4 separate regions of the Homo sapiens genome follow, and regions 1, 3 and 4 are each linked to region 2. The links come from fine-mapping of genetic effects on gene expression. A gene starts in region 2. Each other region holds a variant in brackets. All regions are shown on one strand. Distances are between the middles of the regions.

The links.
Region 1: its variant is fine-mapped to the expression of RSRP1 in whole blood (INTERVAL, PIP 0.98).
Region 3: its variant is fine-mapped to the expression of RSRP1 in whole blood (INTERVAL, PIP above 0.99).
Region 4: its variant is fine-mapped to the expression of RSRP1 in whole blood (INTERVAL, PIP 0.93).

The regions. Positions count from the first base shown.
Region 1 is chr1:25,196,532-25,204,386 of GRCh38, reverse strand. No RefSeq gene overlaps it. Among named protein-coding and RNA genes, the nearest start is that of SYF2, 32 kb to the left of the region's middle. RefSeq lists a silencer at 2,598-2,772 and an enhancer at 4,838-5,337. The variant C/A (reference allele first, on the strand shown) is at 3,291.
Region 2 is chr1:25,244,202-25,252,056 of GRCh38, reverse strand. It overlaps RSRP1 (arginine and serine rich protein 1), which reads left to right and starts at 4,603. Exons shown (of 5, transcript NM_020317.5): 1 at 4,603-4,748; 2 at 5,028-5,613; 3 at 6,756-6,907. The coding sequence starts at 5,094. RefSeq lists enhancers at 4,363-5,087, 5,088-5,812.
Region 3 is chr1:25,374,200-25,379,199 of GRCh38, reverse strand. It overlaps RHCE (Rh blood group CcEe antigens), which reads left to right. Exons shown (of 10, transcript NM_020485.8): 8 at 3,772-3,851. Among named protein-coding and RNA genes, the nearest start is that of TMEM50A, 38 kb to the right of the region's middle. The variant G/A (reference allele first, on the strand shown) is at 2,535.
Region 4 is chr1:25,536,170-25,544,024 of GRCh38, reverse strand. It overlaps LDLRAP1 (low density lipoprotein receptor adaptor protein 1), which reads right to left and starts at 419. Exons shown (of 9, transcript NM_015627.3): 1 at 239-419. The coding sequence starts at 326. RefSeq lists silencers at 1-99, 130-589 and an enhancer at 690-749. The variant A/G (reference allele first, on the strand shown) is at 3,678.

The sequences.
Region 1 (7,855 bases), 48 kb after region 2:
CAGCCTCACTTATTTGCATATTGTCTGTGGCTACTTTCAGCTTACAGTGGCAGAGTTGACAGATGGCCTAAAATATTTACTATCTGGCTCTTTACAGAAAAAGGGTTAGATAGATGCAGAGGTTATTTAGCAAGGCCTTGAGGAATTGGGTCATTAGCTCCAGGAGAGTTGAGGGACCCAAGGTGGGAGACCTTGAGTACTGAAGTGGCCAAGAATGTTTTTGGGGGGTGGGGAGAGAGTAGGAGCAGCATGGAGGAGATAAGAGGCTTGGGTGAGGCGTGGAGAGGGGACATCGAGAGGCTTTCAATTGCTATGCTAATGCCCTCAAATACAAATACCAACCAGAAAACCTACCAATTAGGATCACCTTGACTCATCTGTAAATAACAACTATTTATCCATCTGTAATCAATGAAGATGATTCCTGTTGGGATTTTAATTTACATCTGTTTTAAATTTTCATGCACTTTCTTTCAAAGGACTTGTGAATGTGCATATTAAAGTGCAGAGAAAAAGAAGACATTTGCCAATAAAACAGAATGGACCACATTACACAAAACTCTTTGCATTTATTTCCATCTTTAGTACCAGCTACTGCACTGGAATTTCTTTCTTTTTTTTTTCTTTTTCTTTCTTTCCTTTCTTTTTTTTTTTTTTAAGACAGAGTCTCACTCTGTTGCCCAGGCTGGAGTGCAGTGATGTGATCTCGGCTCACTGCAACCTCTGCCTCCTGGCTTCAAGTGATTCTCCTGCCTCAGTCTCCTCAGTAGCTAGGACTACAGGCATGCATCACCATTTCTGTATTTTTAGTAGAGACAGGGTTTTGCCTTGTTAGTAAGGCTGGTCTCGAACTTCTGACATCAGATGATCTGCGTGCCTTAGCCTCCCAAAGTGCTGGGATTACAGGTGTGAGCTACTGCGCCCGGTCTGGAATTTCTTAAGCAATATTTTCCAGGTGTTTTGAGCCTATTTTGTGCTGGGTAATTTTCATATATTGCATTTATTGAATTTCCACAATACTCTGACAAATACACATCAATTCTTCTATCTTTCAGAAGAAGGCAACAGCTCAGAGAAGTCACGTAATTCTCAGCTGGGCGCGGTGGCTCACACCTGTAATCCCAGCACTTTGGGAGGCTGAGGCAGGTGGATTGCCTGAGGTCGGGAGTTCAAGACCAGCTTGACCAACATGGAGGAAACCCATCTCTATTAAGAATACAAAATTAGCTGGGTGTGGTGGCTCATGTCTGTAATCCCAGCTACTTGGGAGGCTGAGGCAGGAGAATCACTTGAACCTGGGAGGCGGAGGTTGCAGTGAGCCGAGATCATGCCATTACACTCCAGCCTGGGCAGTAAGAGCAAAATTCTGTCAAAAAAAAAAAAAAAGTCAGGTAACTCTCTAAGGCAGGCCAGCTGGACCCTGAATTTGAACCCCATGAACCAATCTTGGCATTAGTCAGAGCTGAGTCCACGGCTCCGAGCTTCCTCCGTCTTGAATGTCTTCCTAATTGTGCTGTGCTTGGTGTTCTTTTTATAGGCTGGTAGCTAGGCCTTGCAGTCTTACTTACATTATTATATTATTATCCTTCCTAGCAGAACCCTAATTAATTAATCATATAGAAATGGTTCCTTATTTAGTCCGTTAAGTTAAATTGAGGCCTTTAGTGAGAGGAGCCAGAAGCCTTGGCCCAAGTGTAGCAGGTCCCAGTCCGCGGGACTAAACATCTGAGAGACACGGGACAGAGTGACCAAGGGCGGGAGGCTGCTCTTCAGAACAGATGTACCTGCAGCTTGCCATCGTCGGGCCATGGGAAGGAAACGAGGCAAAAAACAAATGCATGGTCAGGACAATTTGTTAGATCCAGGGCTAGTTTTTAACTCTCAGTGTTGGCCTGTAAACACATTACCCTGCCTAGGAGTGGGCTCATGATCCCACCCAGAGACTGACTTTGACTGCTGGAAAAAGGTCCCTTTTGTAAGCAGAGTCACACTAGGGCATCTGGAAATAAATGTGCTGGGGCATGTTGGTGTTTTATTCCCCAGCGTTCTATGTTTGTTGTCTTGGGAAGTGTTGACAGGTGCACAAGGCAGAAGTAATAACAAAAGTGTTTGTGGGTGCTCTTGAGAAAAGGTGTGCTAGGCTGTTTTTTTTTTTTTTTTTTTTGAGACAGACTCTTGATCTGTCGCTCGGGCTGGAGTGTCGTGGTGCGATCTTAGCTCACTGCAACCTCTGCCTCCCAGGTTCAAGTGATTCTCCTGCCTCAGCCTCCTGAGTAACTGAGATTACAGGTGCCCGCCACCATGCCCAGCTAATTTTTTTTTTTTGTATTTTTAGTAGAGACGGGGTTTTGCCATGTTACCCAAGCTGGTCTCGAACTCCTGTGGCTCAGGCAATCTGTCTGCCTTGGCCCTCCAAAGTGCCAGGATTACAGGTGTGATCCACCGCATCCGGCCAGCTGTTTTTGCATTGCTGTAAATGAATACCTGAGGCTGGGTCATTTATAAAAAGAGGTTTAATTGGCTCACGGTTCTGCAGGCTGTATGAGAAGCATGGTGCCAACATCTGCTCGGCTTCTGGTGAGGACCTCAGGAAGCTTACAATCATGGTGGAAGGTAAAGGGGGAGCAGGCACGAGAGTGGGAGCAAAAGAGTGGGGTTGGGGGGCGGTTCCAGACTTTTAAAGAACCGGAACTCATGTGAACTCACGGAGCAAGAACTCACTTATCACCAAGGGGATGTCGTTAACCCATTCATGAAGGATCTGCCCTGGTGGTCCAGTCATCTCCCACCAGGCCCCACCCCCGACATTAGGAATCATATTTCAGTGTGAGATTTGGGGGGAACAAACAAACATCCAAACCATATAGAAAGACATCCCCTGGTTCTCAACAGCCCCCACTCTCATTTTTTGCAGGAGGTGCGGAAGGTGAAATGGGTAGGTGGCTTATGAGCATAAGCTGTTGGTAATTAGATCCTTCCTTGGCCTCAAGTCCTCCCTATTTCTCAATTGGCCACGCTGTTGGAGAAAAAGGTGTGGGACAGGCCTTTAGGATCACATTACTGAGGGAGAGGAGGCAGTTTCAGAGGACACATTCCCGGGGATTTGTTTACCTGTTGACCGGATCTTGTGGAGGGCTCCAGAGAGCCTGTTCCCGACAGGCGACCTCCAGCGCTGTGGGTGAAGGGTGAACATGGAAGCTGATGGCCATGACTGTCAGAGGAGCTGCAGTGGGGTCTACTGGATGGGCAGGCCCGTGTGGGATGGAATGAGGCTCAGGGGAGTGGCAAGT[C/A]CAGAAACAACTGTAACAGAGGAGGGACTAAATATGATGAGGTGGGAGGATCAAGAAATGCAGAAAAGATGCAGAGGGGTCAGATATGGTGGCTCATACCTGTAATCCTCGTGCTTTGGGAGGATAAGGCAGGAGGATGGCTTGAGGCTGGGATTTTGAGACCAGCCTGGGCAACATAGTGAGACCTCATCTCTATAAAAAGTAAAAAAAATTAGCCAGGTGTGGTGGCGCCTGCCTGTAGTTCTAGCTACTTGGGAGGCTGAGGTGGGAGGAACACTTGAGCCTGGGAGGTTGAGGCTGCAGTGAGCCATGATCACGTCACTGCACTCCAGCCTTGGCCTGGATGATAGAGAGAGACCCTGTCTCAAAAAGCAAACAGACAAACAAACACACACCAAGCAGGAGCCTAAAGAGCCACTCCACTCACGTAGAGAAAACTTCACACACAGGAGCTGATTTTCGGAGCGTGAGAGCCCTATGGCTGGGCACTGTGGTGGTCCTTGCCCTCCAGACAAGGGAGCAAAGGCTCAGAGGTTTACGCTACCGGTTCCAGACCACACTGCTGTGAGTGGCAAGGTGGGGCTTCGAATCCAGCCCTATCGGCTGCCAAAGCCGCATTGCTCATCCACCAAGCCACACTTCCTCTCAGCCCTGCCTGTTCATTAAGGCTCTTCTCGGAAGCTCCAGGTGCCCGCATACCCTCTCCCAGTGCCCCTGCCATCTGTCCTGACTCCCTGCCTGTCAGAGCTTGGATACCACGTGGTACTTGGCCTTCTCCCGTAGATGCTTCTCCCCTACAGACCTGGCCCAGATAGGCAGGCCTTTGCCAGCCTGGCCATGCCTGGCTTGGGCGAATGTCGACTCGTGTCGTCCTGTGAGCACGCCATCCCAGGGCACTATGGTGGATGCCTCTGTAGCACAAAGAGACTGGGCCAGGGTCCTTGAGGGCTCGGGCTGGAGCGGGGGCCCTCACATTCCTGCTGCCTGCCAGCACTGTCTCCAAATGCCTGTCAGGTTGTAAAGGCGAAGAGTTGTGCATAACAGCTGCAGAAATCAAGCTGGCTCAGAAGAGCTCAGCCTGCAGAGAGAAGAAAATGATTTCAGCAAGAAACAAGCTGCAAATAACTCATAATGACCAGAGTGGGGCCCTGCCGGCTTTGCTCTGGGTTTGGTGAAATGTCTTAAGATATTTTTCCAAAGCCCTGGATTTGGCCAAATTGGAAACGTCCTTCGGCAAATGCTTTCTTTGCCTTAATTCTTAAAGTCAAGACTATTTGGAAGGCGATCTCCTTTGCTGTTTCAGATTCGTTTACTCTTGACACATCACAAGGGGCCTGCTGGGCGAGAGCTGTTTATAGGAGCAGATTTTAGGAATCAGAGGCTAAAGCAAGAAAGGTTTGGTCCATCCCATTAAGCACACCTCCCCCCATCCTCCACGTGGGGAGAAAGCCCTGGAAACAAGGGACTGAGGCTTGGGATCCCTGGTGGAGGTCAGGAAGTACCTCCTCCGTCACCCCTGGGCACCTTAGAGTTGTCTCCCAAAGCCTCCTCACTTTTCTCTTCTCTTGGATTCTAGAAATGCTGCCGAACTCAAAGCCACAGACCCCAGAGACCTACAAGGCAGTGTAGGTCTCACGAGCCTTGGTCTCACGTTGCTCAGGGGGGTCTTCCCTTCCTCTCGGCTCCTCCCACCTTCTCCTTCTGCACGACACCTTGGGAGGGCCTTGTGAGTGGCTTCTGTGGCACTGACCCAGGACCCCAAGCTCTGTAATTAGGCCCAGAGCCTCAGGTCTTTCAGCTCTACCCTGGACGTGGAAATAGAATCCTGAAGGCTTTTTGCTTCTGGTTTCTAGGCTGTCTCCCCGGACACTGCCTCGCCCTCTGCGGGGCTCTGAGTTCCTGGTGGAGGCGCCCACAGTGTGTGGCTGGCTACACTGCTCACTGCAATGGCTATAGGAGGTGAACACGGGATCAACCCTGCCGGGTTTGCTCCTTCGCAGTGACGCACGGCTCCGAGAACACACTCGGCCTCTGTATTTTGGCTTCACGTTGGAAAAATCTGCAACAATGCCTTCTGAGTCAATTCCACTGGGGCTCTGGTGACAAACCACTCTGGTTGTGTCTGGTGGCTTACAGGGTCCCCAGAGCCCTTTGATGGAATTACAGCTGCTCCTCTGTGCCGTCGCTGTCTCTCTGCCTCTGTCTCGCTCAACCTCTGTTTCTCTTTCTCTCTGTCAACACGGAAGGAGCTGGAACCAAACTGGAATGTGTGCTTGGGCAGCCTCAGTCCCGAGTGCCCACGAGCTGGTGTGTCTTGGCAACAGTGGCCCAGCAGCGCCCTGGCAGAGCCAAGCAGATGAATGGGTAATTAAACCGAGTGTTTCCCTACTGATACTTATTTCCCTGGTTCCAAATTTATTACTTAATTAAAGGGTATTCACAGCCTGCCAAGAGATGCTAGATCTTTCTTTCCTGTGCCAACAAATAGTTCCTCTTATACCCCTCTTTTGCCCTCAATTCTGCCTCTCTCTTTTTGTCTATCTGTGTCTCTGTCTGTTTCTCTCTTCCTCTCTCACAGACCCACATCCACACCCACGCCCACAGAGTCTTAGATCAAATAAGAGTACTAGTTGTTAGTAATTTCCTTGGTTAAGACTCTTGATAGTTTTTGCCCCAGGACAAGGCAAGAGAGTTAGTCCCGGCTCTTTTCTCCAATGGCTATTTAGTCCTGTGGGCTTGAGGTTTGGGTCCAGGGAGAGAGGAGTCAAGGGAGTGGTGGCTGAGGCCATGCTAAGGCTGGCTGGACCGGTGGGGACGTTAGTGCCCCTGACTTCCCCATCGTTGTTTCCAGGTGGGCACTGCCCCCAGGCAGCTTTCTCTCCTCTGCCCGCTCAGCTGCTGCTCCCCGCAGACTTCCTCATTCCTTCTGTTTTGCCCCATCTGAGATGAGCCTGTGTGCTTTGGAACACAGCAGACTATTGTTCCAAAGACAATAAAAAAAGATTGGGAAATGTAGTGGCTGTCACTCCCCAGTGCCTTCAAGTTAGAATTCGACGTGTGTGTTCAGAGGGCCGTGGTGAGATTGCGCCTGCCAAGGTAGAACAAACAAAAAGGAGTAAGAGAGAAAAAAGACAAAAGCTGGGATTAAACACCCCAAAAAGAAGATAAAATAGGCACCTCCTCCCTTAACCTCCCGTGACAGATTTAAAGCTTCATTAGTGGCCCACAAGGGGTTCTCAAGCAGCTACTGCCTCATCATCATGGCCATTAACCAGCGTGCAAATGACCCGCCGAGGGCCCTCGACCTGTCATGGCGCTGTCACCAGCGTGGTTTATGGCTTCTGAGCACCAGGTCCCAGATGGGCAACATGATCCTTTGCTTCCCTCATCAGAGCAAATCTGGACTTTAGAGCTCGTAAATTCAGCGGGGTGTCCCAGGGGCTGGCTGACATCTTGGAGGTGCCGGGTGAGGATTTATGGGCCCAGCCATAGTTTTGGGGGAGCCACAGGTTACCAGCGCAGGCATTAAAAGATACGGAGTTGCCCAACACAGCAAATGATGGCCACACGGGTGGCTCAAAGACAGCAAGGCTTAGTCAGCATGAGAGAGGGCGTGTGGTCCCTTAATGGGACTGGTGGCCGCTGCTGTTTACCCAGCCGTGGGGCTAGGAGCGCTCTATGCACTGTTTTCCTGCCCTCAACACTCAGGCAGGGGGCTGAGCCGGGATCCTGACTCCCAGGCTGGCCAGTGGGGTGGAGCGAGTCCTCACTGCCCCACAGCTCTTCCCAGCTATTCCATTCCCAGGCTGCCTCCACCTCCCACCCCTCCAACCCACCCTGGCCCGGGGTGGCTTTGCACACTTAGAACAACCTCTGGCTTGGTTGTATTAGCAGAGACATGGATCCTTAGTGTTCCTAAATGGCAGGTCTCAGGGCCGGGGCAGGGACACTGCCTCTCCACCCAGATTCCACCTGCTCCATGCCCTGGCTCGTCCCCACCACCAGCCCTCCAAATCCCCGTCCCTGCTGGTATTCATTCATCCTCTGGAGCCAGGCTGCCCATTCAGCTTCCTGCTCTGTCACTCACTGCTGTGTGCTCTTGGACACATCACTTAACCACGCTGGGCCTCATTCTCTCATCTGTAAGAGGCAGGTTTTTACAGAAGTGCCTACGTGGTTGTAGGGTTGTTGTAGGATTGCATGCGATAACCCATGTAAGTGCCTGGCCCGTAGCAAATGGTTGATAAATGTGAACTTTTTATTTATGTTATTATCATCATTGTGCCAGCTCGTCAGACACTACCTGCCAGTCCTTTCGGTGAGACGGCCTGCCTGGTGTCACACTTAATGTGTGTGTCTAGCTCTTTTTTTTTTTTTTGAGATGGAGTCTCGCTCTGTTGCCCAGGCTTGAGTGCAGTGATGTGATCTCGGCTCACTGCAACCTCCACCTCCGGGTTCAAGCAATTCTCCTGCCTCAGCCTCCTGAGTAAGCTGGGATTATAAGCGCCCCCCCCACTATGCCTAGTTAATTTTTGTAATATCTATAGAGATGGGGCTTTGTCAGG
Region 2 (7,855 bases):
TAGCCAGGCGTGGTGGCGTGCACCTGTACTCCCAGCTGCTTGGGAGGCTGGGGCATGGGAATCACTTGAACCAGGGAGGCAGAGGTGGCAGTAAGTCGAGATTGCACCACTGCACTTCAGTCTGGGCAAGAGAGCGAGACTCTGTCTCAAAAAAAAAAAAAAAATCTATATGTGGGTATATTTGACATGTCTTGAAGAAAACTGTGGAAGGGCACTCGTTAAACTGTTAACATTGGTTATCTCTAAGATATGAGGAAGAAGGATGGAGACCTCTTTTAGAGGATTCTATACCTCTAGGGAATGATCGTTAGCTTGTATACATCTTTGGATTCCTTTACCTGATAAAAAATTAGTTTTGTCATTAAAATTAACAAAAATATTAACTTTGAGCCGGGCGCAGTGGCTCACGCCTGTAATCCCAGCACTTTGGGAGGTTGAGGTGGGCGGATCACCTGAGGTTGGGAGTTGGAGATCAGCCTGACCAACATGGAGAAACCCCGTCTCTACTAAAAATACAAAATAAGCCAGGCATGATGGCACAAGCCTGTAATCCCAGCTACTCAGGAGGCTGAGGCAGGAGAATTGCTTGAATCCGGGAGGCAGAGGTTGCAGTAAGCCAAGATCAAGCCATTGCACTGCAGCCTGGGCAACAGAGTGAAACTCCGTCTCAAAAAAGAAAAAAAAAAGGAAAACTATAAATTATACTGAATGTTTTATTTTCCTATTGCTGTGGTAATAAATAACCATAATGTTAGTGGCTTAAAACAACCTAAATTTAATATCTCATAGTTCTATAGGTGAGGAGTCTCACCAGATTAAAGTCAAGGTGTCAGTCACATTTTGTTTCTTTTTGGAGGCTCTAGGGGAAGATCCCCAACACTAGCTCATCCATGTGTTGGCCGAATTCAGTTCTATGATGTGGGATTGAGGTCTGTTTCCTGGCTGTCAGCTGGAAGCCACCATTAGCCCCTAGAGTTCTTTCCCTGCCCTTGCACATAAGCCCCTACATTTCTTTCTTTCTTTTTTTTTTTTAATTATTTTTTTCTTTGAGTTGGAGTCTCGCTGTGTTGCCCAGGCTGAAGTGCAGTGGTGTGATCTCAGCTCACTGCAACCTCCGCCTCCTGGATTCAAGTGATTCTCTTGCCTCAGCCTCCTGAGTAGCTGGGATTACAGGCGGACGCCACCTCGCCCGGCTAATTTTTGTGTTTTTAGTAGAGATGGGGTTTCACCAAGTTGACCAGGCTGGTCTCAAATGCCTGACCTGGTGATCCGCCTGCCTTGGCCTCCCAAAGTGCTGGGATTACAGGCGTGAGCCACCGCGCCTGGCCCGCCCCTACATTTCAGAAGCAGCAACAGGGCATGGAATTCTTCTCATGCTTTGACTCTCTCCTGAGATTAGATTGGGCCTACCCAGATACTTCAGAATAATCTCATCTCCAGATCCTTAACCTTAATTACATCTGCATAATTCCTTTTGTCACCTTAAGGTAACATATTCACAGGTTCCAGGAAATTAGGGAATGGACATGTTTGGGAGGCGATTGGTTTGCCAACCATAATGAAGGACATAAACAAAAAACCAACTTAAATGGCACATTTAAAACTTGTTGTGATACCCTACCTTGTTTAAACCTGAGTGACTCTCTCCTAGCAGACAGAGCCGGACAGACTCCATTTTAGTTTCTTTGCTTGCAGCCCTCTTTATCCCCCTAAGGGAGTAACTAGTGCAAGCTGACTCCAAGCACATCCAGGAATTCACCTGCTGATAAGATATTGAGGCAAGCTGTACCAGCAGCTCCTGGGAATGTGCTCGGTGGAAGGTACCTAAAGCCCCCGCATTTATCTCTTAGTGATAGTTTAAGCCCCTGTACCTGGAACTGTTTATTTTTTGTAACTGCTTCTATAACCAATTAACTTTTTTAACTTTTTGCCTATTCTGCTTCTGTAAAACTGCTTCAGTTAAACCCCCCTCCCCTATTTAGACCTTAGTATAAAAGAAAATCTAGCCCCTTCTTCAGGGCCGAGAGAATTTTGAGCGCTAGCTGTCTCCCGGTTGCCGGCTAATAAAGGACTCCACAATTTGTCTCCAAGTGTGGCGTTTCTCTATCTCGCTTGGTTACAACATTGTCACATTCTTAGATGGGAAGATTTGCTATTGTAAAGATGTTATTTCTGCCTACATTAGCCTACAAATTCGGTGCTAGATGTTCTAATAACTAAAGTTGAATTTTTTTCATTAGGTGAGTGGATAGATGCTCAGAGAATATATACTGTTTAGAGAAATAAAGGAAGGTGACTTTGCAGACTTTAACTCAGGTAGACCGCGTATGTTTTTGAGACAAATACACCAGCATTCTGCACGAGGGCAAAGTAATGTTTCCCACTGTTTCCAAAATCCTGTTAATATCCAGGATTTGCTGGGCACAGTGGCTCACGCCTGTAATCCCAGCACTTTGGGAGGCCGAGGCAGGCAGATCACTTGAGGTCAGGAGTTCAAGACCAGCCTGGCCAACATGGTGAAAACCCATCTCTACTAAAAATACAAAAAAAATTAGCTGGGCATGATGGTGCACGTCTGTAAACCCAGATGCTCGGGAGACTGAGGCACAAGAATTGTGTGAACCCAGTACGCAGAGGTTGCAGTGAGCCCAAGATCACACCACTGCATTCCAGCCTGGGCGCCAAAGCGAGACTGTCTTAAAAAAAAAAAATTAGGATTTTTCTGGTCACCATTTTTTAGGCACACATTGACTGATACTTTGAACTGTCTACGGAGACTTGTTCCATCCTTTCCTATTCATAACCAAGAGCTCAAAACTGTATCGTAAGTATACTTTAGTTCCCCAACACATCATTTTTATACTTGTCAAATGTGAAACTCGTGTTGTTATTATTATTATTTGTTTCCAGACGGAGTTTTGCTCCTGTTGCCCAGGTTGGGTTGCAGTGTTGCAATCTCAGCTCACTGCAACCTCCGCCTCTCAGGTTCAAGCAATTCTCCTGCCTCAGCCTCCCGAGTAGCTGGGATTACAGGCGCCCGCCACCATGTCAAGCTAATTTTTGCATTTTTAGTAGAGATGGGGTTTTGCCATGTTGGCCAGGCTGATCTCGAACTCCTGATCTTAGGTGATCTTCCCGCTTCGGCCTCCCAAAGTGCTGGAATTACAAGCGTGAGCCACCGCGACTGGCCTCGTGTTATTTTTCTGTCCACTCACACAGCTTTATGAGAACTTTCGGCAAAGGTTTCTGATGGATGGGCATTGTATCTTCACTGTCTTGAGATTTAGAGAAGAAACTGTTTAAGAACTACTTCCATCATGATGCATCCTCAGGAGATGTGGATGAACTGCGGAGATGTGGGGTGAAGATGAACAAGAGATGAGTGAGTTTGTGTCTCCCTCTAAAGAAAGTGGCTTTTGTCAAAATGTACTTGTAAAGAAGTGTATAGGCTGGGCAAAGTGGCTCACGCCTGTAATCCCAAAACTTCAGGAGGCTGAGGCGGAAGAATCGCTTGAGCCCAGGAGTTGGAGACCAGCCTGGGCAACACAGTTAGATCCCGTGGGTAAAAAAGTGCAAAAATTAGCATGGTGGTGCATGCCTGTAGTTCCAGCTCTTCGGGAGCCTGGGCTGCAGTGAGCCGTGATGGCCCCACCACACTCCAGCCTGGGCGAGTGAGACCCTGTCTCAAAAAAAAAAAAAAAAAAAAAGGCAATTAACCCACAATTTTCAAGGCAATTGTTATGCTTTATTACAAGAAGTGTTTGAAATGCATCCCATTTGTAGATCCCTAGAAGTAAAATAGTCACCTTTGTTTACACTCACACCAAACACAGTTTTTGGAAGAGATATCGCAGACTTCATTATTATCCCCAGATTAAAGGTCAGTTTTGAGTCTTTTTATTTTGTCTCGACCTTATTACCTTCCTAGCCAAAACATGGAAGTAAAACATCTTTTCTACGTTAATACTGCATTTCCAGGGGTCTTGGGGTGTTCCGGGGGAGGGTGAGGTCCCCTCTCTGTCATGGCGGGGTGTGGACGCGGTCGCCTTCTCCTGGCGCCGCGGTACCTAGGACAGGAGGAAGAGGCCAGGAAGGGTCCAGGGAGGCTCAGGCCGGGTCTGCGACTTGCCGGTGGGTGGCGGCAACGACCCTGTGGGCACCAGCCCGTCAGACGGCCCCAGCTCCGAGCCCGGCTGCGAGCCCTCTCCAGCCTGCAGCCGCTCCTCTCCCGGCCCTACTCCCCGCCCGGCACTGACGTCCAGCCCCGCCCGTGCAGTGAGGCCAGAGCCTGGTGTAGCCCCACGCGGGGCCGTTCCATCTTCGAAGTTTTCTGGTGACTGGGTCGGTCCCGCAATTATCTCAGATCAGGGGGGAAGCCAAGGGCAACGGGACACCCTGATGTATCAAACACCTCCCCCTGGAGCCCCATCGCGCATGCGCACCCTGGAGGCAAGCGCTCGAGGCACAGGGCGCGGCTTGGGGAGGGAGGAGGCAGGGCGGTGGTTGGGCAAGAGAAGAGCCGCGCCCACCACGGAACATCTCTGCGCATGCGCCGGGGGCCAGCTTCTGGTACTTTTGACGCGTCTGCTAACGTAGTCCCTCAGTGCGCATCCGGACGTAGGAGGTGGAGGTTGTGGAATTCGCCGTTCGAAAGCAGGGACTAAAAGCCCCACTTCGTCTTACGTTCCGAAAGGAAGGCGTCTGTTGAGCCTTTCTCTCAGTCGTGAGGGAGGCGTCGACGGCGTGCGGTAAGTTTTCTGCTGACGGGGTCTCTCAGGACCACCGCAGTGGTCTCTCAGGAGTGAGGGACGGGAAACGTGCCGGGCCCCGCGTTTGGGGAACGCAGCGTTTCGCTTCAAGGCCGCGGCCTCAGGGCGCCGAGCGGGGTTTCTAGGGCTCGGTTCCTGTCGCGGCGGTCGCCGCCCGCGCCGTGGCTCCGCCTCCCGGAGGTTCCCCGACTGTGGCTTCCGGGTGGCCAGGCGCCGGCTTCCGCGACTCGACTTGTTTTTTCTCTCTTGGTTTTTTAGGAAGTCCTGAGTTGAGGCTTGCGGGATCCTTTCCGGAGAAAGCGCAGGCTAAAGCCGCAGGTGAAGATGTCCAACTACGTGAACGACATGTGGCCGGGCTCGCCGCAGGAGAAGGATTCGCCCTCGACCTCGCGGTCGGGCGGGTCCAGCCGGCTGTCGTCGCGGTCTAGGAGCCGCTCTTTTTCCAGAAGCTCTCGGTCCCATTCCCGCGTCTCGAGCCGGTTTTCGTCCAGGAGTCGGAGGAGCAAGTCCAGGTCCCGTTCCCGAAGGCGCCACCAGCGGAAGTACAGGCGCTACTCGCGGTCATACTCGCGGAGCCGGTCGCGATCCCGCAGCCGCCGTTACCGAGAGAGGCGCTACGGGTTCACCAGGAGATACTACCGGTCTCCTTCGCGGTACCGGTCCCGGTCCCGTAGCAGGTCGCGCTCTCGGGGAAGGTCGTACTGCGGAAGGGCGTACGCGATCGCGCGGGGACAGCGCTACTACGGCTTTGGTCGCACAGTGTACCCGGAGGAGCACAGCAGATGGAGGGACAGATCCAGGACGAGGTCGCGGAGCAGAACCCCCTTTCGCTTAAGTGAAAAAGGTGGGTGGGTCATTTACCTTTCCATTTGTGGTAATGTATGGTGGCAGTATATGAGTAGGCTAGGGAACCAACGTTGCTGTGTAGTTTCAATATTAGTTCCTTTAGTGCCCGAAATCTTTTTGGAGGAAAGAGGGAGGACATTACCTGTATTTAAGTGGACAGCATTCTCTTTAGGGTTAAAGGTCAACTGGATGTTAAATGGCTCAGGATGTAGGGAACTTTTTTTCCTATTGGCTGACTGTTCTTAGTGGGTGGAGCCTTTTAAATGTTATGATTAAGTTAAAGGTTCTAAGTTAACGTGATTGGGAAGAACAATATCAAAACACGCCTTCTTTTAGTTGACATTATTACTGAATAAAATTGGATTGTCGAGTATCCTAAGTGACCTAGGAGGCCGGGCGCGGCGGCTCACCTCTGTAATCCCAGCACTTGGGGAGGCGGAGGCGGAGGCGGGTGGGTCACTTGAGGCCAGGCGTTCCATACCAGCCTGGCCAACATAGCTCACTATCTAGTAAAAGTACAAAAATTAGCCGGGGGTGGTGGTAGAAATACACTTTAGTAGTGTATCAGTATTGGTTCAGTGGTTGTGATAATTATATAAAGAATCTACAGCAGAAAAACCTGGTTTTCAGAAATACATCTTTGAAGAGAAAGCAAAATAATATCACTATTAGCTAGAGAAAATTAAGTACAACAAAAAGACAAAATAATAGGACGCTCAGGCCTTTAGTCAAGAAAACAAAACTAATTGTTGAGATAATTTAAGAATTTTATTCTTTTCAGCAAGAAATGAGCTGGAGAATAGAATTTTCAGTGAATAAAGTTACACAGTTGTCCCTCTGTTCACTCGGGGGATTGGTGCCAGGATGCATATGGAACCCTCGCGCACACTTGGGGTTTACAGTCTCTCAAACACTGTGGTACTTTCTATCTGCATTTAGTAAGGGGGAGAAAAAACAAGTATAAAGTGGACCAGCGCAGCTACTAGTGTTCAAGGGCAACCTTAGTTTACCTATTATAAAACAAGTGACTTAATATATTTAATACCACAAAATAACATATTTATTGTGTAATTCTGAGTTCTCTTGGGAAATAACTACCAGATTAATGAGTATTTTAAAATCTCTCTCTTTTTTTTTTAGATCGAATGGAGCTGTTAGAAATAGCAAAAACCAATGCAGCGAAAGCTCTAGGAACAACCAACATTGACTTGCCAGCTAGTCTCAGAACTGTTCCTTCAGCCAAAGAAACAAGCCGTGGAATAGGTGTATCAAGTAATGGTGCAAAGCCTGAAGTAAGTATTCTAGGTTTGTCGGAACAAAACTTTCAGAAAGCCAACTGTCAAATCTGATTAGCCACTTATATCTTAGACTATACTTTTTGGGAAGTCTAGAGATGTATATAATGTGCTAAATTCAAAGTAGCAAATCTGAAGATAGGCAATGTCAAACCCATGAAAATGGGAGATTAATGAGCTTTATTTGGCCGTGCATGGTGCCTCATGCCTGTAATGAGGCAGATGGCTTGAGTCCAGGAGTTCAAGACTAGCCTGGGCAATGTGGCAAAACCGCGTGTTTACAAAAAATACAAAAATTAGCCAGGCATGGTGGTGCATGCCTGTAGTCCCAGCTGTTTGGGAGGCTGAGGCAGGAGGATCTTTGAGCCTAGGATGCTAAGGTTGCAGTGAGCCAAGATGGCACCATTGCACTCTAGCCTGGGCAGCAGAGCGAGACCCTGTCTCAAAAAATACATTTATTTTTTTCATTTTCAGTTAACAGTGTACTCTTATAACACCGTTATTAGCTGGTACTTTGGTGATTTCTATTACTAGTTTTTCTAAGCTATTTACAGAGTGTTTGTAGCTTTCATTTGCAGCATTATGTTCCCACAAATTCTGTACTCAGCATATACAGTATAGTTTATCTGCTCTATTTCTGTCTTATAGAAATCATGAATGTGGTCTGCAGACATTGATGAAGAAAATCTGTTGGTAATTGATACATGGGCTAAAGCATCAGAGGTTTAATTTGAAGTTTATGTTCACACACTGAAAACTTAGTTTTTTTGTTGGTAGATCCATGTGCATGCTAGAATTTGGGACAGGCACTATTTGCATAAAGTATTAAAGTCAATTTTTAAACTAAGCAAAGGTACACGTTGTAACGGTGGGGCATCTGTGAAAAAGATGTCCCTTTCATAATATATGCAATATATTCCAGATGTTTTGAGAGATTACAGAAGA
Region 3 (5,000 bases), 130 kb before region 2:
TGCCCTCTTGCCATGTGATACCCTCTGCCATGTTATGGCACAGCAAGAAGGTCCTCAACAGATGCCAGCAGCATGCTCTTAGACTTCCCAGCCTCCAGAACCATGAGCTATATATAATTATTTTATAAATTACCCATTCTGTGGTATTCTGTTATAGCAACAGAAAGTGAACTGAGATAATATACATGGAATCATACAGTAAGTCTGTGCTTTTGTATGCTTCTTTTACTCAACATTGTAGTTGTGAGATTCATCCAGGTTGTTAAGCATTGCTGTACTTTTTTTCCACTGGGATATAGTGTTCTGTCATGCTTGGGTCTTAATTTATAAAGGTGACTGAGTGGCATTTTCTTCCAGTATTATTGGAAGGAAAGTTTTGTTGTTCACAGTTCCCCTGTAAAAAAGAGGCAGAACACGTCTTGCAGGGCCACACAAAACTGTGTCATCCAGGGACCAGGCAGCAGAAAGAGAGGGGGAACTGGGCCTATGCCTTTATGAAAAAGAGTGGTGGGAGAGTAACTGGGTGAGGGCATCCACTAATGGGCAGGAAGTGAAAACACATATGTTGGAATTTGTAGCTGAGGGGTTTATAATATGAGTTTCCCATGCCTGAGAAAGCTGACTTGCAAGAAAACGAGATAAACAACTTTGGCCATTAGTGTGGCCCTGTCATAAATGAATGCCGGATAGACAAATCGAGAATCTAAGAAAAGATAGTTGGAACAAGTGTTCCATTGTGTGAATGCAGCAGAATTTATTTATCCATTATTGAGGAGGATTTGGGTAGTTTCCAGTTTGGAGCTATTATGAATATTCTAGTATTGCTCCTCTGAACATTCTAGCACTTTTGTTTTTGGAGCACACGAATGCACTTCTGTTGATTATATGCCTAGAAGTGAAATTGTTGAGTTATACAGTATTCACACAGTCAGCCTTAGTGGCTACTGCTAAACAGTTTTCTCTAGTAGTTTGCGCCAATCTAATCACCAGTAGTGTATAGAAGCTCCTTTTACTCCACATTTTGTTAACACTTGGTGTTTTCCTTCTTTTTGATTAGTCATTTAGCAGTGAAACCTATTTTTTACATTTTGATATCTCCAATAACTAACTAAATGGAGCACTTTTAATATGCTTTTTGGACAGTTGAATATCTTTTCTTGTGAAATGTCTATTCAAGTTAGTTTGCCCATTTTCTATTGTGGTGTTCTGTCTTTTTCTTATTGATTTTAGGAATTCCTTACATATCCTGGATATGAATCCCACTATGTGGCTTACCTTTTTCCTTCTTTCTTTTTGAAACAGAGTCTCCTTCTGTCACCCAGGCTGGAATGCAGTGGCGCTATCTCAGCTCACTACAACCTCTGCCTCCCAGGTTCAAGCAATTCTCATACTTCAGCCTCCTGAGTAGCTTAGATTACAGGTGCATGCCACCATGCCCACCGAATTTTTGTATAGACAAAATAATTTTTGGTAGAGACAGGGTTTTGCCATGTTGGCCAGGCTGATCTTGAATCCTAGCCTCAACTTTGGCCCACCTTGGCCTCCCAAAGTGCCAGGATTACAGGTGTGAGCCACCATGCCCAGCCCACCTTTTACTTTCTTAATGGTGTCTTTTGAACAAGGAGGTTCTTAATTTTAATATAGCCCAATTTATCATTGTTCCCTTTATGCTTAGTTCTTTTATGTCCTGTTTAAGAATTTTTGCAGCCAGCTCGGTGGCTCACACCTGTAATCCCAGCACTTTGGGAGGCTGAGGCTGGCAGATCACAAGGTCAAGAGATCGAGATCATCCTGGCCAACATGGTGAAACCCTGTCCTTACTAAAAATACAAAAAATTAGCTGGGCGTTGTGGCTCTTGCCTGTAGTCTCAGCTACTCGGGAGGCTGAGATCACGCCACTGCACTCCAGCCTGGTGACACAGCAAGACTCCATCTAAAAAAAAAAGAAATTTGCAAGGTCATGCATATGTCCCCCTGAATTTTTTTCTAAAAATCACTTAATTTTAGATCAATGAATTGAGTAATTGACTCCATTTTTCAGTCATTCAACAAACATTTCCCTGAGGTTTTGATAACCTGAACTGTGTTTGGAGCTGGGGAGGAAGCAAACTATTGAATATATACAAAGATGGCAAAGATGAGGGCCTGGAGCTTGCCACACGGAAGGGGGGATGGCTGCCTGAATGGTTGGGCAGGTAGTTGTTGACATCTGCACTCCCTACAAGAGCAGCAGGGTGGCAACTCTTTTTATCTTTTTAATTTATTTTTCTTTTCTCTTTTTTTTTTGAGATGGAGTCTTGCTCTGTTGCCCAGGCTGGAGTGCAGTGGCGTGATCTCAGCTCACTGCAAACTCCACCTCCTGGGTTCACACCGTTCTCCTGCCTCAGCCTCCTGAGTAGCTGGGACTGCAGGCACCTGCCACCACTCCCGGCTAATGTTTTGTATTTTTAGTAGAGAAGGGGTTTCACTGTGTTAGCCAGGATGGTCTCCATCTCCTGACCTCATGATCCACCCGCCTCGGCCTCCCAAAGTGC[G/A]GGGATTACAGGTGTGAGCCACCACACCCGGCCTTAATTTATTTTTCTAGTCTGCAGGTAATTCTTTTTAATTCTCTCCACTCTCCTATGATCTTATGAGGTAGGGACTGTGATTATTTCTCCCACTTTATAATGAACAATCAGTAAAGACAGGGAAGATAACCAAATGACATACAAGGTGGGGTCCACCCCATGAGGCTGCAGGCTTGGAGCTTTCCTTTGTCTTAAAAATGAGAACATGAGCTGCCCACCTGTTGAGACAAGAAATAGGAAAGGCTTAAAAAACTGGCTTGTTGTGTACAACTATCCGTGGGGCTGCAGTGAACGGGCTGGCAGTGCCCAGGTGCATGCTGAACCCTGGGACAATCACATTCAGCATCCAGGGGCCCCCGTAATAGCTTAATGTTTGAATTGAACCCCTGGGGTTGCCTTGAAGGAGAGAGATCCTGGAAGTATGTTCAAGGGGTAGGGATGGGCAGGGGAGATGGGTCTGAAAGCCAAGCTCTACCCCACCCACCTTGCCCCAAGAGAAATAGAACCTTCATCTTTAATTGCCTAACGAGAAAACTGGGGCTGGCCAGATGTGGTGGCTCATGTCTGTAATCCCAGCAATTTGGGAGGCCAAGGCGGGCAGATCACTTGAGGTCAGGAGTTCGAGTTCAGCCTGGTCAACATGGTGAAACCCCGTCTCTATTAATAATACAAAAATTATCCAGGTATGGTGGCGCATGCCTGTAGTCCCAGCTACTTGAGGCACAAGAATCGCTTGAACCTGGGGGACAGAGGTTGCAGTGAGCCGACCACTGCACTCCAGTCTGGACGACAGAGTGAGACTCCATCTCACAAACAAAAACAGAAAAAAAAAAAAAAAAAAGAGAGAGAGAGAAAACTGGAGGCTCTGAGAGGTTAAAGGACTTGCCCAGGGTCTTGCAGCTAGTAAGTGACAGAGCTGGGACTTGAGCTTGGGTTTTCTGACTCCTGGTCTGGTTCATTATCCATGAGGTGCTGGGAACTAAAATAAGCCACAATCTTGGAATCTCCGTCGCCTCCCTCCCTCCCACATGTCTGCGTGGCTTTTTGGGAAAATGCCAGGGGAATGTACCAGCCAGGGAGAGGACCCTTGTTTTCCTCATGGCCCTTCCTGGCAATGGCACTACTGACACCGACAGTCCTTTTTGTCCCTGATGACCTCTGCTGCCTGATGCCCAAGTGACCACCTCTGCTTTGTCATTTCTAGGATTGGCTTCCAGGTCCTCCTCAGCATTGGGGAACTCAGCTTGGCCATCGTGATAGCTCTCACGTCTGGTCTCCTGACAGGTCAGTGTGAGGCCACCTTTCTTCCACCATTGCCAGGACACAGCACCCACGTCCAGAGCGCACCCTGCCGTGTGGCTGGATGTCTATGTGCCCCATCTCCTTCCCTGAGGATCACATAATTTCAGAATTGGAAAGGTTCTTAGAGGTCACCTGCTGCTAATGTGGACTGTGAGGCCAGGGCAGGGAAGGGACATCCCTGAGGTTATAAGTAGGGTGAGTGGCAACGTTGCAGACTTTTGAACCCAGGGCTGGTGATCACACTCAGTTTTGCACAGAAGCCCGAGAAAATCCTTACACCCAAAAGCCTACCTTTTATTTCTGAGGACACCCATAATACTATTTTATTCAACAGATATTTATTCAATATCCACTATGAGCCAGGCACTGGGGACACAGCAGTGAGCAAAACAAATTCCCTGACCCCATGGAATTGACCTTCTAGTGGGGGAAGGTATTAGCAATAAATAGACAAATAAGTGTCTACTACGCCAGATGGGAAGAAGTGGCTGTGAAGACAGAGCAAACTAGAGAAACATAGAGTCAATGTGGGATGGGGTGTTCTTTTAGGGGGGTGGTCAGGGAAAGCTTATCTGAGTAGTTAGCTTTTAAGCAGAGACCCCAATGAAGAGGAGGGAGATATGCGATGCATTTAGTTAGGGGAAGAACATTCCATGAAAATAGGATAGCAAGTGCAAAGGCCCTGAGACAGCAGCATGCTTTGTGTGTTGAGGGAACAGTAAGGAGACCAGTGTGGTTGGTGTGAATGGAGTGAGAAGGAGCAGCAGGGGTTGAGGGCAGAATGGTAGTGAGGAGCAGGCCCTTATAAAAGATGGGAAGCCACTGGAGATCTTTCAACAAAGGGGAAAAGTATGTTTCTGTTCTTGCAATACAATAGAAAAGCAAAAAATCTAGGGGAGTTGCTAATTAGCCAGTTTTACTTATATGCCAGGTGAAAATATGTGGCTAGGTGCAGTGGCTCATACCTGTAATTGCAGCAGTTTGGGAGACCGAAGTGGGCAGATCATCTGAGGTCAGGATTCAAGACCAGCCTGGCCAACATGGTGAAACCCTGTCTCTACTAAAAATTAAAAAATTAGCCAGGCGTGGTGGTGGGCACCTGTAATCCCAGCTACTTGGGAGGCTGAGGCA
Region 4 (7,855 bases), 290 kb before region 2:
TCGGGCTCCTTCCTCAGCGCTGCCCCTCCTCGCAGCGGCATCGAGCGGCCGGCGAGTAGGTGCACAACTTGACCCCGGCCGACCCCCTGCCCCGCAGGGCCGGGAAAGGGCCACGCCGGGACCGGAGCGCCGGTGAGGCCCCGCCTCTGCCCAACTTGGCCGCACTCCGGGCGCCCGCGGAGGCCCCGCGCGCCTCTGCCCGATCCCGGCCCGGCCCGGCTGACGCGCGCACACTCACTGCGGTGCCGGCCACCGCCCCCCCAGCTCTGCTTGGCCAAGCTGGGGCTCCGGATCAGCGCCCGCCCCGCCGACTTGAGCGCGTCCATGGCCCGCTCCGGCCGCCGCCGCCGCTGCCGCAGCCAAAACTCCGTCAGGAAAAACTTTCCGCCCGGCCCTGCGGCGCGCGGGCTGCGCGCTCCTCCCCTCCCAGCGCCAGCTCCGCCGCGGCGTCCGACGGGGCGGGGCGAGAGAGGACAGGCCCCGCCCCCAGACGGGCCGCGCCCCCGACGGCCGGTCTCGCCCCGCCCGGTCCCTGTCCAGGCTCCAGGTCCAGGCACCAAGAGTTTCCGAGGCCGCCCGAAGGCGCCAGAAGATAGCAAATCGCAAGCCCTAGACGCCCCCGCTTTCCTCCTTTTCCCCAATCCCCACCCCGTAGGGGCCTGAGGGCCTGAGAGCAGCGGCCTAGGATTTCCAGTGACCATTTTACAGATGGGGAGACTGAGGGCTCCTCCAGTGGTGAAAGATCTTGTTCAGGGACAAAAGCAATGCGATGTCCAGGGCAGTGGGAGACTTAGGAAATAGTGGAGGCTGTAAGCCAGGGATATCCAAACTTTTGGCTTCCTTAGGCCACATTGGAAGAAGAAGTGTCTTGGGCCACACATGAAATACACTAACACTAACGACAGCTGATGAGCTGAAATATATATATATACACACACACTCATGTTTTTTGTTTTTCTGTATTGTTTTTTTTCCCCTGAGACAGAGTTTCACTCTGTTGCCCAGGTTGGAGTGCAGTGGTGCGATCTCGGGTCACTGCAACCTCTACCTCCCGGGTTCAAGCTATTCTCATGCCTCAGCCTCCCGAGTAGCTGGGATTACAGGCATGCACCACCATGCCTGGCTAATTTTTGTATTATTAATAGAGATGGAGTTTTACCATGTTGGCCAGGCTGGTCTCGAACTCCTGACCTCAAGTGATCTGCCCGCCTCAGCCTCCCAAAGTGCTGGGATGGCTGTGAGCCACCACACCCTGCCCAAAAAAATCTCATAATGTTTTAAGAACCTTTACCAATTTGTGTTGGGCTCCATTCAAAGCCGTCCTGGACCTCACATGGCCAGTGGGCCACAGGTTGGACAAGCTTGCAGTATAGACCCTTGTTAGGCGCAGGGTCGGTATATAAAAATTTGCCTTTAGCAAGTCCAGCCAGGCACTTTACTCATCCTCGTAGCTCCCAGGCTGCTCCCTGGCACCACCTGAGCATGCTGGGCCACCCCATGCCCCCGCAACTTCCCAGGTAGCCTCACAGATGGTATGATCTGGAACGTGCCCCTGACACTGACTTGCTGTGTGACCTCAGGCAAGTACTTCCCCTCTCTGAGTCTTGTTTATCTGTGAATGAGAGTCAATGCTATCTCTAGTGATCCTTCCAACCTGCCAGGGTCAAGAATCTGCATGACCTTGACCCTGACCCCAAGCTGCTTCCTAGGAGCATTCGGAGGGCAGTCTGAACCCCAGAATTGCTCAGGCACAGATGTTCTAACTCCAGGATTGGAAGGATTTGTTCTAACTCTCTAGGATGCCATGCCTTCCTTTCAAACTGTGCCAAAAGGAGCCAGAGGGAGGACACACACATCCAAGCCACAGCCTGGCTTCTTTTAGAAGGGGGTGCCTCAGGCAAGGCCAACTTCAACCTCTGTAATTACTCCTGGCTCAGAAGCCAGCAGTCCTCTCTGTGTCGGGAGAAAGATAGTGCTGTGCTGTCCCCAGCTGGATAGGGCGGCCTCACTGACATTCCCCTGTTTATAAACCAAGTGCTTTGTTAGCCAGTCTGTCCTTGGCTTCCCCAGCAACACTGCTTAGGTGGACCCACTTTACAGATGACAGCCCTAGGTCAGGGAGGGAAGCATTCACTGATAGTCTCCGAGAGTCAGAGACTGGGATCAGACTCAGGCCCATAGGCAATGGGGTAGAGTATAATGCCAGGGGTTAGAACCCAGCTGTCCTTCTGGTGGTTGTGAACTCACCCTTCTGAGCCTCATCTGTAAAAGGGACAACTATATCTATTTCACAGGGCTGTCCTTAAGGACTAAATAACAGGAGTTGGAATGGCTGAATCCTGTTCTTGAGAACCCACCTTTAAAGTTGCCTCCTCCAGGAAGGCTTCCCTGACTACCACCCATGGATTAAGTTTCTCTTTGTGGGCGCCCACAGTCCTGAACTTTCAGGATTGCAAGCACTACTGCTGCCTGTTTATACTCCTCTCATCTCCATTAGACTTTGTACCCTCCAAAAGCAGGAAGTTTTTCTGATTCATTTCTGAATCCCAAATGCCTAGTAAGGGGTCCAAATGGAGTTGGAACACAGTCAGTGTTCCTGTCCTTCCTCCCTCCTTTCCTCCCCTTCTCCCTTTCTCCAGCTTTTCACCAAACCAGGCTGCCTTCTGCAAAAGGGCTGTGGCAATAGGTAGATGGGTCCACAGGGCTGAGTGCCCCCAGCTCACTTATCCCAAGCCAGCTAGATTCTGGAATAGTAGAGAGAGCATTCTGAAGCAGGGAGGAAAAGTGATCACCCAGGGCAGACTGGCCAAGGGCAGCTGGTGGTGTCCGGCTGGCAGGGGGCACCATATGGGCCTGATAAGCAGGAAGGCCTGGGAACGCTGCGTGTGCAACGAGAACTGTTTACCAGCCTTTGCAGTTTCCCGGAGATGGCTTGCTGCGAGCTGTCAGCCATGTGTCCCCTGCAGAGGGGCAGCCTGCTAGTGCCCCTTCTGCCAATCCCAGAAACAGAAGCAGAAACAGAAGGTCAGAGCTGCGAGTGGCCTCCTCTGAGGTCACTGTGGCCAAACCCTCATTTCACAGATGAGGAGCCTAAGGCCCAGAGAGGGACAGGGACTTACGCAAGGTTACACAGCAAGCCAGGAACAGATGCCAGGTCTCCTGCCTCCCACCTTGGATGCTTATAACAACGAGGAGGAGGCAAAGAAGTAGGGCCGCGTGCAGTGGCTCGTGCCTGTAATCCCAGCACTTTGGGAGACTGAGGCGGATCACCTGAGGTCGGGAATTTGAGACCAGCCTGACCAACGTGGAGAAACCCCGTCTCCACTAAAAATACAAAATTAGCCGGGCGTGGTGGCGCATGCCTGTGATCCCAGCTACTCGGGAGGCTGAGGCAGGAGAATCGCTTGAACCCAGGAGGCAGAGGTTGCAGTGAGCCGAGATCACGCCACTGCACTCCAGCCTGGGCGACAAGAGCGAATCTCCGTCTCAAAAAAAGAAAAGAAAAGAAAAGAAAAAAATAAGTCCTGAGATTCAAGAGGGGCTTGAAAGGGGATTTTTCTTTTCTCTTTTGTTTGGTTTTCTGTTTATCTGCTCTAACTTTGTAAACATTTCTGCAGTGATCATGTTCCTTTAGTAATCAGAAAAAGAACAATAAACGGGGTCGGGGAGCTACCTAT[A/G]AGAATAAATGGCTTTTGTCTTTAGTCAAATGGCATCAGCTACAATCTTACTAATTTCTTCCTCAGTGGACCCACAGGACCCCAGCGAGATAGTGGATGCCAAGGAGTTGACAGGGCTGTCAGCCTCTCTCCAGCCATCATTTGGGCTTGCAGTGGGACCAAGACAAAAGCCTAAGCTGGGATGAGAGTCCCTGGTTTCCTCAGGTGGTCTGTCCTCCCTACTTCCCTGAGCCAATCCCTTCCTCTGTTTCTTCATCTGTAAAATGGGAGTTATTAGTGGAAGACACCAGAGCGCAGTAGTGAAGCACACTGATGCTGCATCCCGGGATCCAGGCTTCCCTATTTCTTTACTGCATGGCCTTAGGCAAATTATTTAAATTCCACAGGCCTCAGTTTCCTCTAAAATGTAAAATTGGTGCAATGGACTGAATGTTTCTGTCCTATCAAAATTCGTATGTCAAAATCCTAACCTTCAAGGTATCAGCAGATGGGGCCATTGGGAGGTAATCCTTTCATGAAAGCAGAGCCCTCATGAATGGGATGAGCATAAAGAAGACCCCAGAGAGATTCCTGGCCCTGTTCACTCTTACAGTGACAAGACAGCCATCTATGAACCAGGAAGCCGGCCCTCGCCAGACCGAATATGCCAACACCTTGAACTTGAACTTCCCAGCATCTGCAACTGTGAGAAATACATTTTTGTTGTTTATAAGGCAGCCGGCCTTTGGTATTTTTATTAGAGCAGCCTGAATAGACTAGAATAATGGGGATTACACCTCATGGAGTCATCATGAGGATTAAAAGTTAATGTAGGCTGGGTGCCGAGGCTCACGCCTGTAATCCCAACACTTTGGGAGGCCCAGGTGGGTGGATCACCTGAGGCCAGGAGTTTGAAACCAGCCTGGCCAACATAGTGAAACACCTTCTCTACTGAAATACAAAAATTAGCTGGGTGTGGTAGCAGGCGCCTGTAGTCCCACCTACAGGCTGGGACATTAACAAAAGTTAATGTTTGTGACATGTTTAGAATTCTGCCTGGCATATAGTAAGTGATGTATATGTTGCATATATATATATATATATATATACACTTTTTTTTTTTTGAGATGGAGTCTAGCTCCATCTTTTTTTTTTTTTTGAGTTGGAGTCTAGCTCTGTTGCCCAGGCTGGAGTGCAGTGGTGCCATCTCGGCTCACTGCAACCTCCGCCTCCCAGGTTCAAGTGATTCTCCTGCCTCAGCCTCCTGAGTAGCTAGGATTACAGGCACCCACCACCACGTCCAGCTAATTTTTGTATTTTCAGTAGAGACAGGGGTTTGACCATGTTGATCAGGCTGGTCTCGAACTCCTGACCTCGTGATCCGCCTGCCTCGGCCTTGCAAAAGTGCTGGGATTACAAGCATGAGCCACCATGCCCAGCCGCATATTTTAATAAAACTAAAATTGCTTTCCTAACTGGGTGAACAATGAAGATGACATGGCTGGAGTACCTATGAATATCATAATTCTTGGCTGGTCCCCAGGGAAGGGAGCTCTCTCTCCGGGTTGGAACCAGCATAGCCCAGTCTGAGGGGCAGGCAGGCTAACATCACACCTTCAATGGACAGGGTAGGGTTGCCCCATCCTAGCTGGGGCCCAGGTCGGAGACAGTACTCTCCTAGGGAGTCAGAGGGAGCCTGGGTTACTTACCGGTGAGTCACAAGCCCCAGGGCTCTGACCTTTTACCCCAAATGCAGGGCCTTTCCTGCCTGCTGTGCCCGCTGACCTGACCACCCCAACCAGTTGCCTCTGAACCCGTCCTCCCTCAGACCCTTCCCATGCAGCTGCTTCTTCCAGGAACATCCAGCCAGACTGCTTCAACTCTCCTGGCCTCTCTACCTTTGCCCTGAACAGCTACTTGGCCTCCTCCCTAACACCCATGATCACAGCCACCCACACACCAGTATTCTCTCCCCAACACACACACACTCCTAAACAACTGTTAGACCTTGGAGCTCCACATACCTTGGCTCTAAAACAAATCCTCCATGTATGTATATGTAACCTTAGCTATCTCTGAGCCTCAGTTTCCTCATCTGTATAGTGGGCATAATACCTACCTTAGAGGGCTTTGTAAGCCTTCTGTGGGATAATATATGGAAAATGCTTAGTCTAGTGCCAGGCGTGTGGCGAGCGCTCAGTAAATGGTAACAGGGTTGGGCACGGTGGCTCATGCCTGTAATCCCAGCACTTTGGGAGGCTGAGGTGGGTGGATCATCGCTTGAGCTCAGGAGTTCAAGACCAATCTGGGCAACAAAGCAAAACCTTGTCTCTATAAAACAAAATTTAAAAAATTAGCCGGGTATGGTGGCACACATCTGTGGTCCCAGCTTCTCAGGAGGCTGAGGTGGGAGGATCGCTTGAGCCCAGGAGGCAGAGGTTGCAGTGAGCTGAGACTGCGCCACTGAACTCCAGCCTGGGCGACAGAGACACTGTCTCAAAGAAATAAAAATGAAGATAAACTTTTTTTTTAAAGGGTAACTCTGGTTATCATTATCATGATTATGGTGAGCCTGTTTGCCTCTTCCAGCAGCTGGGCGTGCCTCAAGCATGGGGGCTGGAAATCAGCATTCATTCCAGGGGCTCCTAGAGCTGCTGACCAGTGCCTGGCACAAAGGAGATGCCCCATACACATCCAATGGCTTAATTTCTGTCTCTGGTTCTTATAGTGTCTGGCAAGTGGGTGAGGAAGGATGAGAAACAGCAGCCCCTAATGGGGCTGGGGAGGTGCTGCTGAGGGGAGCTCCTCGGTACCTACCCCTCCAAATAGCCCTCCGTGGTGGGACCAGCAGCTGTCTCCTCCCCCAGCCTAGCATCCACAGGGAGATCTCTAGGCTGTGGAGCCACTGAGCTAATTAAGAATGACAAAGCACCGTGTAATTGCCAGCAATTGATGAGTCCCCTGCCTCCTGCCCCCGCTTCCCTCGTCCTCCTTGGCACTGTCTGGCCTGGAGGTCACTGCATAGACATGGAGGCAGGCAGAGTGGTGTGACTGAGGACAGGCTGGTGTCAGGAGACCTGGGGGCTGGCCACCTCTGCCGCCCTCTTGCAGTGGCACTTTGGGCAAGGAAGTTCCCTTCTTAAGTTGGCTCTATTTCCCTTTTTCTGTCTACAGGGATCTTGACCTTGTGCTGAAAGGAGGTAGGAGGAGGGACAAAGTGAAGGGGCCAGGCCAAAGAGGACTCTGCTAAGGGGTCTGCTGCACCTTCCAGACTGGTTGAGTACAAGGCAGACAGCCTCAGGTTTGAGTCCCAAGCCCCACTCAGCAGCTGTGTGATCGTGGGCAGCCCACCTACCTACCGTCTCCATGCAGCAGGTTCCTCAGCTCTAAAATGGGACTCGCCTGAGAGCACTTAGCTCTTACTAGGACAACCTGCATGTGTTCTGAATCTGGGCCTATAAAGAGACCTCTGGACAAGCCCAATGCTATCAAAGAGAGTGTAGATATTAAGGGTTGAGAACTTTTAGAGCAATTTGATAGAGTAATTTTATGTCTGTTGAATCTCATTTTTAAAATTAGGCTTGTGTTTTTCGTCATTTTATTGTATTTTTCTAGTAATTCGTTTTCCTTGTATTTTACAAAAGCATTGGTCTGTGACAGAAGAGAAATTCTTTTAAAAATGGTCCTGCTCCACTGATGCTTCGAGAAGCATTACTTAGTGGACTTCATAAAACAGACATTGGTGGCAATCTTGCCATAATATCTATATAGTTCCAGGGTTTGATTTCCAGGAACCTTCAACTTCTCCAAAGCCTGTGAGATAAAGACCAAACCCCTTAGCCTGGCTTTCGAGGCCCTTCTCACTGAAGTCCCCACCCACCTTCCCATCCCTCGTCCTCCCCAGCCACATAGCCTTGTGATACTACCCTGTAACCCCTTCCCCTAAACTTCCTGTGTCCTCCTACTTCTCCATGCCTTTGCTGTTCCTTCTACCTGGAATGCCTTTCTCCAGTTTGCCCTCCAACTGGCAAACTCCTATTCATCCTTCAAAGCCCAGACTAAATGTCACCAATCCTGGGAAGCCTTTCCCAATGCCACTCCAGCACTCACCCCAGGTGGGGTTGCTCCCTTCTCCATACTTCACATGGAGCATGTGTGGGGACAGGACATCGCTATGGTTAAGGCTACAGGCTCAGCAG